2 separate regions of the Homo sapiens genome follow, and region 1 is linked to region 2. Evidence: fine-mapped expression QTL. A gene starts in region 2. The other region holds a variant in brackets. All regions are shown on one strand. Distances are from middle to middle.

The links. PIP is the estimated chance that this variant, and not a neighbour inherited with it, causes the effect.
Region 1: its variant is fine-mapped to the expression of TFIP11 in whole blood (TOPMed, PIP above 0.99).

What each region holds. Positions count from the first base shown.
Region 1 is chr22:26,536,242-26,541,767 of GRCh38, reverse strand. It overlaps TPST2 (tyrosylprotein sulfotransferase 2), which reads left to right. Exons shown (of 7, transcript NM_003595.5): 3 at 50-979; 4 at 5,282-5,480. The coding sequence starts at 138. Among named protein-coding and RNA genes, the nearest start is that of MIR548J, 16 kb to the left of the region's middle. RefSeq lists an enhancer at 1-423. The variant G/A (reference allele first, on the strand shown) is at 3,014.
Region 2 is chr22:26,510,365-26,515,364 of GRCh38, reverse strand. TFIP11 (tuftelin interacting protein 11) reads left to right here and starts at 2,892. Exons shown (of 15, transcript NM_012143.4): 1 at 2,892-2,971; 2 at 3,190-3,266; 3 at 4,663-4,748. It overlaps TFIP11-DT (TFIP11 divergent transcript), which reads right to left and starts at 2,833. Exons shown (of 2, transcript NR_144529.1): 1 at 2,331-2,833; 2 at 797-1,953. RefSeq lists enhancers at 2,070-2,607, 2,830-3,009.

The DNA of each region.
Region 1 (5,526 bases), 26 kb before region 2:
TCACAGCTCACAGACCTCCCTGACTATGCATGTCCCCCTCTCTCCCCAGATGTGAGCCTGGCGGGCTGCCCGCTAACCTGTCGCTGAAGCCCCAGAAGCGGGCCCTCAGGCCAGGCCTACCCTGCCTCCGGCCCAGCATGCGCCTGTCGGTGCGGAGGGTGCTGCTGGCAGCCGGCTGCGCCCTGGTCCTGGTGCTGGCGGTTCAGCTGGGACAGCAGGTGCTAGAGTGCCGGGCGGTGCTGGCGGGCCTGCGGAGCCCCCGGGGGGCCATGCGGCCTGAGCAGGAGGAGCTGGTGATGGTGGGCACCAACCACGTGGAATACCGCTATGGCAAGGCCATGCCGCTCATCTTCGTGGGTGGCGTGCCTCGCAGTGGCACCACGTTGATGCGCGCCATGCTGGACGCGCACCCCGAGGTGCGCTGCGGCGAGGAGACCCGCATCATCCCGCGCGTGCTGGCCATGCGCCAGGCCTGGTCCAAGTCTGGCCGTGAGAAGCTGCGGCTGGATGAGGCGGGGGTGACGGATGAGGTGCTGGACGCCGCCATGCAGGCCTTCATCCTGGAGGTGATTGCCAAGCACGGAGAGCCGGCCCGCGTGCTCTGCAACAAGGACCCATTTACGCTCAAGTCCTCGGTCTACCTGTCGCGCCTGTTCCCCAACTCCAAGTTCCTGCTGATGGTGCGGGACGGCCGGGCCTCCGTGCACTCCATGATCACGCGCAAAGTCACCATTGCGGGCTTTGACCTCAGCAGCTACCGTGACTGCCTCACCAAGTGGAACAAGGCCATCGAGGTGATGTACGCCCAGTGCATGGAGGTAGGCAAGGAGAAGTGCCTGCCTGTGTACTACGAGCAGCTGGTGCTGCACCCCAGGCGCTCACTCAAGCTCATCCTCGACTTCCTCGGCATCGCCTGGAGCGACGCTGTCCTCCACCATGAAGACCTCATTGGCAAGCCCGGTGGTGTCTCCCTGTCCAAGTGAGTGGAGCCCCTGATGCTTCCACTCAGACTCTGGCCCTGGAGTCAGAGGCGCCAGGCAAGAAAATCAGCACTGCCTTTCTTGAGCTGTGTGGCCTTGGGCAAGTCACTATATCTCTCTGAGCCTCCGTTTCATTATCCCAAAAAATGACAACAATTACTCCTCTCCTTTCTGAGAGAATCTGCAAACTTCGTGGGCTGTTTGTTTGTTTTTTGAGGCAGTGTCTCGGTCTGTTGCCCGGCTGGAGTAACAGCCGCCACCTCCCTGTTCAAGTGATCCTCCCACCTCATCTTCCTGAGTAGCTGGGACTATAGGCATGCGCCACCAAGCTGGGCTAATTTTTGTATTTTTGGTAGAGATGGGGTTTGCCCTGTTGCCCAGGCTGGTCTCAAACTCCTGGCCTCAAGCAGTTCTTCCACCTCAGCCTCCCAGAGTCCTGGGATTACAGGCATGAGCCACCACACCCAGCCTAGAATCTGCAAACTTTGAATATGCTTTGTAGTAAGGCAATAGTGGGTAAAGGTTAAGAGCACAGATTCCAGAACAAGGATGTCTGGGTTCAAACCTCAGCTCTGCCACTTCTTAGCTGTGTGACCCTGGGCAAAGCGACTCAACCCCTGTGCTTCCATTGCTTCATCTGTAACATGGAAATATAATTTGCCTACCTTATAGATACCTGTGGGCATCAAATAGGTTAATAAATGTTAGGTGCTATTATTACTATTTTAGTGTTGATACTGCTTTTATTGATGGAGTACCCATCCTCACCATTGTCATTTAATGAGTGCCTACTGTATGGCAAGTATTGGGTTAAGCCCCCAACAAGTTTATCTCCTTTAATCCTCACAGCAACCTGAGGACATAGGAACACCTCTTATCCACATTTTATAGACCAAAAAACTGAATCTCACAGAGGAGAAGTTACTGGCCTCAGGCTACACAGCTAACAAAGCATGGTGCTGGGATTGGAACCCAGGTCTGTTTTTTGGGGTTTTTCTTGTTTTTGTTTTTGTTTTTTTGAGACAGGGTTTCACTCTGTTGCCCAGGCTGGAGTGCAGTGGCACGATCCCAGCTAACTGCAGCCTCGACCTCTTGGGCTCAAGCAATTCTCCCACCTCAGTCTCCCGAGTAGTTGGGACTACAGGCGAGCATCTCCACACCCAGCTCATTTTTTTTTTTTTTTTCCTAGTAGAGATGAGATCTCAGTATGTCTTCCAGGCTGGTCTCCAACCCCTGAGCTCAAGCCTTCCTCCTGCCTTGGCCTCCCAAAGTGCTGGGATTACAGGCCCCTGGCCTATTGTGTTCTTAAACTCCCCATGTCCAGAACTCCTCCCATCCTCCCCTTCACTCCCCCTCATCCTTTCCTTTCCTTCCTCCCTCTGTCCCTTGCTCCCTGCCTTCTTCCATTGGAAAAGCTGCTGTCCCTATCCTGAGACCCAGAGCACTTTGAACAATGCTGGAGCAGAATATGCAGTTTCCACGCTTTCCCATCCTGATCAGGCTCTGGATAGCCTGAGAGCTCAGTGAAAGGGTGGTCCTTCCCATGGCTGGTCCTTCCCATGGCTGGTCCCTGCTGGGCCCCTTCCCAGGCCCAGAGCAGAGCTAGAGGCTCGCAGCTGCTCTCCGCTAGCAACAAAGTTCCTACATGCCGGGTACCCCAGCCAGTTGGTGCTGGAGCTAGGATTTTATAAATTATTATGACAAAAATATTAGATTACCAAAGTAATACATCTTGACTATAGAAAATTAGAAAAGATACACCAAAGAAGAACGGAGAAACAACCCATGATCTCACCACCCAGATCTTGATGTGTGGCCTACTGCACCATTTTCAGGGCCTGTTGATGAAACTGGAGTCCAACGAAACATACTCCTCTGTAGCCTTTTTCCACGGTGGTGTGGGAGCCCTTGCCAGTGGCAGCCAGCACTCTTTGGTAGCAGCATTTTTGTTGTTGTTTTGTTGTTGAGACGGAGTCTCGCTCTGTCACCCAGGCTGGAGTGTAGTGGTGTGATCTCGGCTCACTGCAACCTCC[G/A]CCTCCCGGGTTCAAGCAGTTCTCCCTGCCTCAGCCTCCCAAATAGCTGGGATTACAGGCACCCGCCACCACGCTCTGCTAATTTTTATATTTTTAGTAGAGATGGGGTTTTGCCATGTTGGCCAGGCTGGTCTCGAACTCGTGACCTCAGGTGATCTGCCCGCCTCAGCCTCCCCAAGTGCTGGGATTACAGGCATGAGCCACCGCGCCTGACCTGCAGCATCATTTTGAATAGCTGTGCGACAGGCTGCTACACGGATTGCCATATTCGACTTCACATTCCCTATTGTTGGACACTTCGGTTATTTCCAGTTTTACTGATATGTATCAAGCATTGCCCTCATTCATGTTCTGGGATGTGTCCACCTCATTTCTGCACCATAAAGTCCTAGAGACACAAGGATTTTGGCAAAAGCCATGCACATACTCAAGATTTTTGACATATTGGGTAGAGTTAAGATTTAAATCCAGGTTTGCAGCCTCTGAATCTGTGTTCTACCCACCAGTCCACACCCTTTCACCTTCCCCTGTTCTCCTCACCTCACGCCCGGTCTTGTCTTCCTTTTGCTGCCTCTTTCTGTTCTTTCCCAAGTCACCTCTTAGTTGGGATGAAAACATTTAGAACTAGGCCCTTGATCCTGGGGGTTCCCCACCATTCATCCTGTCAGGCCCCTGAGTTATAATTGGTAAGATCTGCATCATTCAGGTGGCTTGGGAAGCCTGTTACAGGGAGAGTTAGGAAGCAGGTTGAAGATGATGGTTATTCCATGGTAGCTGTGAAAAGTTGGAAACAACCTAAATGTCTGTCTTCAGGGGAATGGAAAAATAAGTGATGGAGGAAGGCTACATAGCTGGCAAAAAGAGTGAGGTATTGAGTGGGGAAAAAAAACTAGCGTATTTGTTTTACAGCTGCAGACGCGCGTTTGTGTGTGTGTGTGAGAGAGAGAGCGTGTGCACAGGAGAGAGAGCATGCTAACCCTTATTAAAAATTTACAATGTGTTGGCCAGGCACAGTGGCTTATGTCTGGAATCCCAGCACTTTGGGAGGCCGAGGCGGGCAGATCACTTGAGGTCAGGAGTTCGAGACCAGCCTGGCCAACATGGTGAAACCCCGTCTCTTCTAAAAATACAAAAATTAGCTGGGCGTGGTGGTACATGCCTGTAGTTCCAGCTACTTGGGAGGCTGAGGCATGAGAATCGTTTGAACCCAGGAGGTGGAGGTTGCAGTGAGCCAAGATTGTGCCACTGCACTCCAGCCTGGGCAACAGAGTGAGACTCCATCTCCAAAAAGAAAAAACTTACAATGTGCCTACGCTCTTCTAAGCACTTTCTTTGTATTAACTCATTTACTCTTCAGACAACCCCAGTGAGGTAGGTACTACTATCATTGCCAATTACAGAAGAGGAAACTGAGGCCCAGAGAGGTGAAGTAACTTTCCCAAGGCCACACAGCTGGGGAACAGCTGGCGTCTGAACCCAGGCAATCTGGCTCCCTGGTTTGCTCTTAACTACTCTACAAGAAAAGGTTAGAGAAGGTGGTGTGCTCCACAGTGCAAAGACTGAGTGCCTGTAGGAAGCCGATGGGCTGGCAGTGATGAACACAGTGGCTTTCAGCTTTATCATTAGTGTTTTATAACTTTTTTTAGGGACAAAATATTCATGTTAGTCATACACATTAAAAAGTGTTTCTTTTTTTTTTGAGACAGGGTCTTGCTCTGTTGCCCAGTCTGGAGTGCAGTGGTGCAATCACAGCTCAGGCTCACTGCTTCTTCAACCTCCCGGGCTCAAGCAATTCTCCCATCTCAGCCTCCTGCGCAGCTGCTGGGACTACAGGCGCTTGTTACCATGCCCAGCTTATTTTTGTAATGGGGTTTCACCATGTTGCCCAAGTTGGTGTCAAACTCCTGAGCTCAAGTGATCCTTCTGCCTTGGCTTTCTGAAGTGCTGGGATTACAGGTGTGAGCCACTGTGCCTGACCTAAACTGTTGTTATTTTTTAAGCTGGAGAAGAAAGCAGAATGTATGTACCAATGGTGTATACTGCTAGTACTTTCTTCTGACTTCTCACTGCATGCTGTGTTCCCATTGTACAAAGGAGGTATGAGGAGGCAAAAATGACTCACCTGCCATCTCACAGTTGATGGGGCAGAGCTGGGTGGAGGCCAGGTTTCTCCAGTCTTTCCTGCTGCCCCAGAGTGGCTGAGCAGGGAATCCGCTCAGGCGCCATCTGGGTCTGCCCTACCCTCTCCAGCGTCTCCTCTCTCCCCAGGATCGAGCGGTCCACGGACCAGGTCATCAAGCCTGTTAACCTGGAAGCGCTCTCCAAGTGGACTGGCCACATCCCTGGGGATGTGGTGCGGGACATGGCCCAGATCGCCCCCATGCTGGCTCAGCTCGGCTATGACCCTTATGCAAACCCCCCCAACTATGGCAACCCTGACCCCTTCGTCATCAACAACACACAGCGGGTGAGTGTGCACCTGTACTTGTGGAAGTGTACTCTTGGGGATATGG
Region 2 (5,000 bases):
AACCATGGATTTTTGAGACTGAAAGGGGTATGACATTGGGTTTTTAAAAATGAAGGCTGGCGCAGTGGCTCACGCCTGTAATCCCAGCACTTTGGGAGGCCAAGGCAGGTGGATCACGAGGTCAGGAGTTCGAAACCAGCTTGGCCAACATGTTGAAACCCCATCTCTAATAAAAATACAAAAAGTAGCCAGGCGTGGTGGCGCACACCTGTAATCCCAGCTACTCAGGAGGCTGAGACAGGAGAATTGCTTGAACCCAGGAAGCATATGTTGCAGTGAGCTGAGATCGTGCCACTGCACTCCAGCCTGGGTGACACAGTGAGACTCTGTCTGGGGGAAAAAAAAATTAAAACAAATAAAAAAACAAAAATTAGCTGGGCGTGGCGGCGTAACGCCAGCTACTCGAGAGGCTGAGGCATGAGAATCACTACAGCTGCGCCTGTAATGACAGCTACTCGGGAGGCTGAGGCATGAGAATCACTTGAATCTGGGAGGTAGAGGTTGCAAATGAGCGAAGATTGTGCTGCTGCACTCTAGCCTGGGCGACAGAGTGAGACTCTGTCTCAATAAATAAATAAATAAATAAATAAGAATATAGCCACAATCCTTTAGAAAGCTCTTACCATGCCAGGAGCTTTACATGCACTAATTATCACTTTCTGTTTTTGTTTTTCTCTAAACAACTCTCTTAGATCAGTACTGTCACTATCCCCAATCTACAGATGGAAAAATTGAGGTGTAGAGAGGTGAAGCAACCTGCCCTCGGGCCCATACCTAAGAAGTAGCAAAGTCGAGATTTGGATCCTTGAAGTTTTTACTCCAGAGCTTTCATTTTAAGAAATTGCAAAAAAGTTATTAAGTACAGAGAGAAACATTTTCCCTGTAATAATTTGAAATTAAGGTGACCATTTGATGCCTTATCCCCTGCCAAATACATTGATTTACTTTCCAGCAAACAAGAACATCCTCTGATGTAACTTAACAGGCAACCATGAAAATCAGGAAATTAACACGGACACATCATTACCACGGCATTGTAGGCCCCATTTAAACTTTTCCAACTGTCCCTGTAACTTCCTTTCAAGCAAAAAGATCCAGTTCAGAATCATGTGTTGTGTTTAGTTGTCATGCCTCTTTGGTCCCCTCCAGTTTGGAACAGTTCCAGGGTCTATCTTTGATTTTCATGACCTTGGCACTTTCTAAGATTACAGTTTTGTATACAGCATGTCTCTTTACGTGGGTTTGTCTGATATATCCTCATGATTACATCCAGGTTATGGATCTTCAGCAGGAATATCACAGGGGTGATGTTGCAATCTTCTCAGGGCATCCTATCAAGTGCCACATAACTTCACTTTGTCCCATTCCTGACAATGCAGACTCTGATCACTAAATCAGAGCCTGCACTCTTAACTACTCCATGACAGTCCACAAAGGTCCCTTCTTCAGAAGCCACAAAGTGAGTTCCATTTGGTGAAGTAAATCCACTAGCATCAGTCCCTCATGATCAAAGTAATTGCAGCTCCATAAAATCTGCTGTAAAGCCATAAACATAGCTACAGAAAAGCCAAGCGTATGTATGCTTTTGGCTTTTGGGCTACAAACAGATGTAAATACATTCAGGCACAGACTAAAAACACTTTTCTCCTCTGTTTCCCTTACTCTGCTCCTGGCAGGGCTTGTAGTCTGTTAGACCCTCTCTCCCGGCCTTCAATGCTAAAACCACATTTTCCATTTCTTTCCTGAGTACATACTATGTGTCAGGCACAATGATTCTACATGTCACTAAGAATACAGAGATCATTAAGACACAGTCATCATTCCTAAGCAGCCCACATTTAACTGGGTACACAAAAATTGTTGTTTAATTCTTAACAACTACTTGATGGTAGACTTAAGTATTTGACTCCAAGTCCCGTGCTCTTTTTACATTCCAACAATTGCCTCTTGAATCTTTTCATCACATAGAGCAGAGAGAGAAAAATTAAGCAAAAATTAATAGCTAACACTTCTTCAGCACCTACTGTTACCAGGTACGGTTTTCATTGCCTACAGTTTTATCTTATTGAATCCTTAACCATTTTGCAGAAGAGAAAACAGGCTTAGATGTAATGACTTGCCCAAGGTCCACAGCTGCTAAATTGCACTCAAGGTTGGAACTCCAGAGCCTGTGGACACTTAAATGTCTACAAGGAGTCCTTGGGCTAGTGAGGGCTTCCCAGGGAGGGCCCATGACTGTTCTGCTCATTGTATCACATTGGCCTAGCACAGGTGAGGGGCACTTAGTATATTTTAATTAGATCAATGAATAAATTAATGAATTTACCAACCTGCTGGAAACGAAAAGAATGGAAACAGCTCCTGGAGAGAATACTTGGGAACTCCAGAGTTTGCCCATTCATTCCTTCATTCCCTCTTAAACTCCTGCATAAAGGCCACTGCCCTGTGCCCACGACGGTGCTTATACCGAGAGCGTCAAAGATACAGGAATCACAGTCTTGACCTTCATTATTCCCATTTGAATGCTGTGTCCCAGGCCCCTTATTGTCTCACAGTATTTACCACAACTACCGTATGGGCTAATCCTACATCTCTATTTTACAGATTTACAATCTCAGAGTGGTAAAGTCTCCTTAGGCCAAGGTGGCTCAGCGGATTCCACACCAGTCATCACAGGCTGAGCGTCACAGTACAAAGCAGGAGCGGCAGGGAGGCCGATTCCGCGGGGAAACCACTCCCCAGCTATTCTAGGCCTTGCAAATCCACCCCTCCTATCTAAGATCCCAGCCGGCCGCTCTGCAGCCATATCCGCCGTAGCGTCCCACGCTGCCCTGGCAGCCAGCAGGACATCCGCTGTCGACTAACGTCATTTCCGGCGCGCCGGCCACGGTGCTTCCGGGTTCTGGTGTAGGAGCGGCGTCTTCTCGCGCGGATGGTGAAGCTGAATTTGGTACGCTGGACCCTCGGACAGGTGAGCACGGCTGGCCACAAGGGGACTCAGCGCCAGTGAGAGTAGGGACGAAGGCTCAGGGAAGGCGAGCTTCGGTCCAAGCCGTTGGGGTGTGGGGAGGGGAATCCATTTCGTAGACAGCTCTGCCGAGGCACGGAGAGGGGCGGTGCTGCTTGGGGTCAACTGGGATTTAGGGCTTGGATTCATTTAAGAACCTGAGCTTCCTTCACCAAACCTAGACAGCAAGAGAGAGACAAGCCCGAGGCCTGACTTCTAGCACTCCTGAGTTTGAGCCCTATGAGCAGTGGAACCTAGGGTAAGTTACTAACTTCTCTGAACCTCCTTTTTCTTATCTGAAGCATGAAAACTAACGGTACCTACCTTGCAGAAGTGTCTTGATGCAGACAGTTGATAATCGGTCTCAAGCGACCAGCATGTACCTAGCATCTACTGATAAAGGCTTCATAACTTGTGACTACTCGGGGCTTATTACCATTTACTATGCCCACGCAGGCAGTGGTATTATTTAACTTTATGTATTTGAGATTCCCCGTCTTTTCTGAAAATCCTTCTGTCCTAAACACTCCTGGAAGAGGTTGGGACCCGTTGCACCCAACCGGTGCACCAGTGAGTAGAAGAAGGCAGAGATAACGTTTTGCCAGAGGTGACCAGAGTTTGACACTGCCTGTGGAAGTAGTGAACTCCGTGTGCCTTAAGGCCGCTTTCAGCAAGACAAGAATCACAATTGCTGTCACCTATGGAGTGTATTATTGTGTAGTGCACCATGCTTGGCGCTTCACGTGCATATTTAATTCTCATACACTGGGTATCTGATAGAGTTGAATTTGAACTCAGGCTTCGATTTTAGCCTGCCTGATTTTACAGTCACTTTGCTAAGTTTACTCCCTAGTCCCATAATAATAATGATGATTGTGATGGTAAATACTGAGTGTCAACTTGATTGGATTGAAGGATACGAAGTATTGATCCTGGGTGTGACTATGTGGGTGTTGCCAAAGGAGATTAACATTTGAGTCTGTGGGTGGGGAAAGGCAGACCCACCCTCAATTCAATCTGTGTGGGCATAATCTAATCAGCTGCCAGCACGGCAAGAATATAAGCAGGCAGAAAAATGTGAAAAGAGAGACTGGCCTAGCCTCCCAGCCTATATCTTTCTCCTGTGCTGGATGCTTCCTGCCCTCGAACATTGGACTTCAAGTTCTTCAGCTTTGGAACTTGACTGGCTCTCCTTGCTCCTCAGCCTGCAGACAGCCTATTGTGGGACCTTTTGATCGTGTGAGTTAATAGTTAATAAGCTCCCCTTTATATATGTATGTCTATTCCATTAGTTATGTCGCTCTAGAGAACCCTGACTAATACAATGATTAACCTAATCATGGGACTAAAGTAGAAGCTATCGTTTCTTGAGCACTTATTTTGAACTCATTGAATTTGCTTTGTAAGCCTTCTCTAAGGTTGGTATGGTAGTTAATCCCAATTTAAGAAAGACAACTGAATCTGGTCACCCAGCTACTGTGAGGTAGATTCTCTATATCAATCTCTGGACATCTGACTATTAAAATAGTGTTCATAATTACTACAGTCTTTCAGTTCATCAGAAGAAATTCATGTTTTGTGAGGAAAACTGAAAATTTTGTTTCATCAAGTAATGTATTTCAAAAAGCATATTCTAAAAAAAATCACTCTCCTAGGACCACCAAGGATCCAGATATAATTCTTTCCTCAGTAATAGAAAAAAGAATCTGGGATCTAAGAAGATACCTACTCATTTTCTAAGGTAATAATGTACAAAATAACCTACTTAGTTATTTTTGTGTGGTTTGTGTATGTGTGAATATGTGTGATATTTATGATATTGACTAGGACAAGGAGATATGTACTTTTAAAGAATCATAGACTGTTAGGAGTAGTATTTTGTTCACCTGTTTTAGTACTGATTGTTATCTAAAAGTAGGTTTTTAATATCTTTTTTATTGAATAGTAATGCTGACTTTAATGGACTTTGAATTTGGAGAAAGTTCTGAAAGCA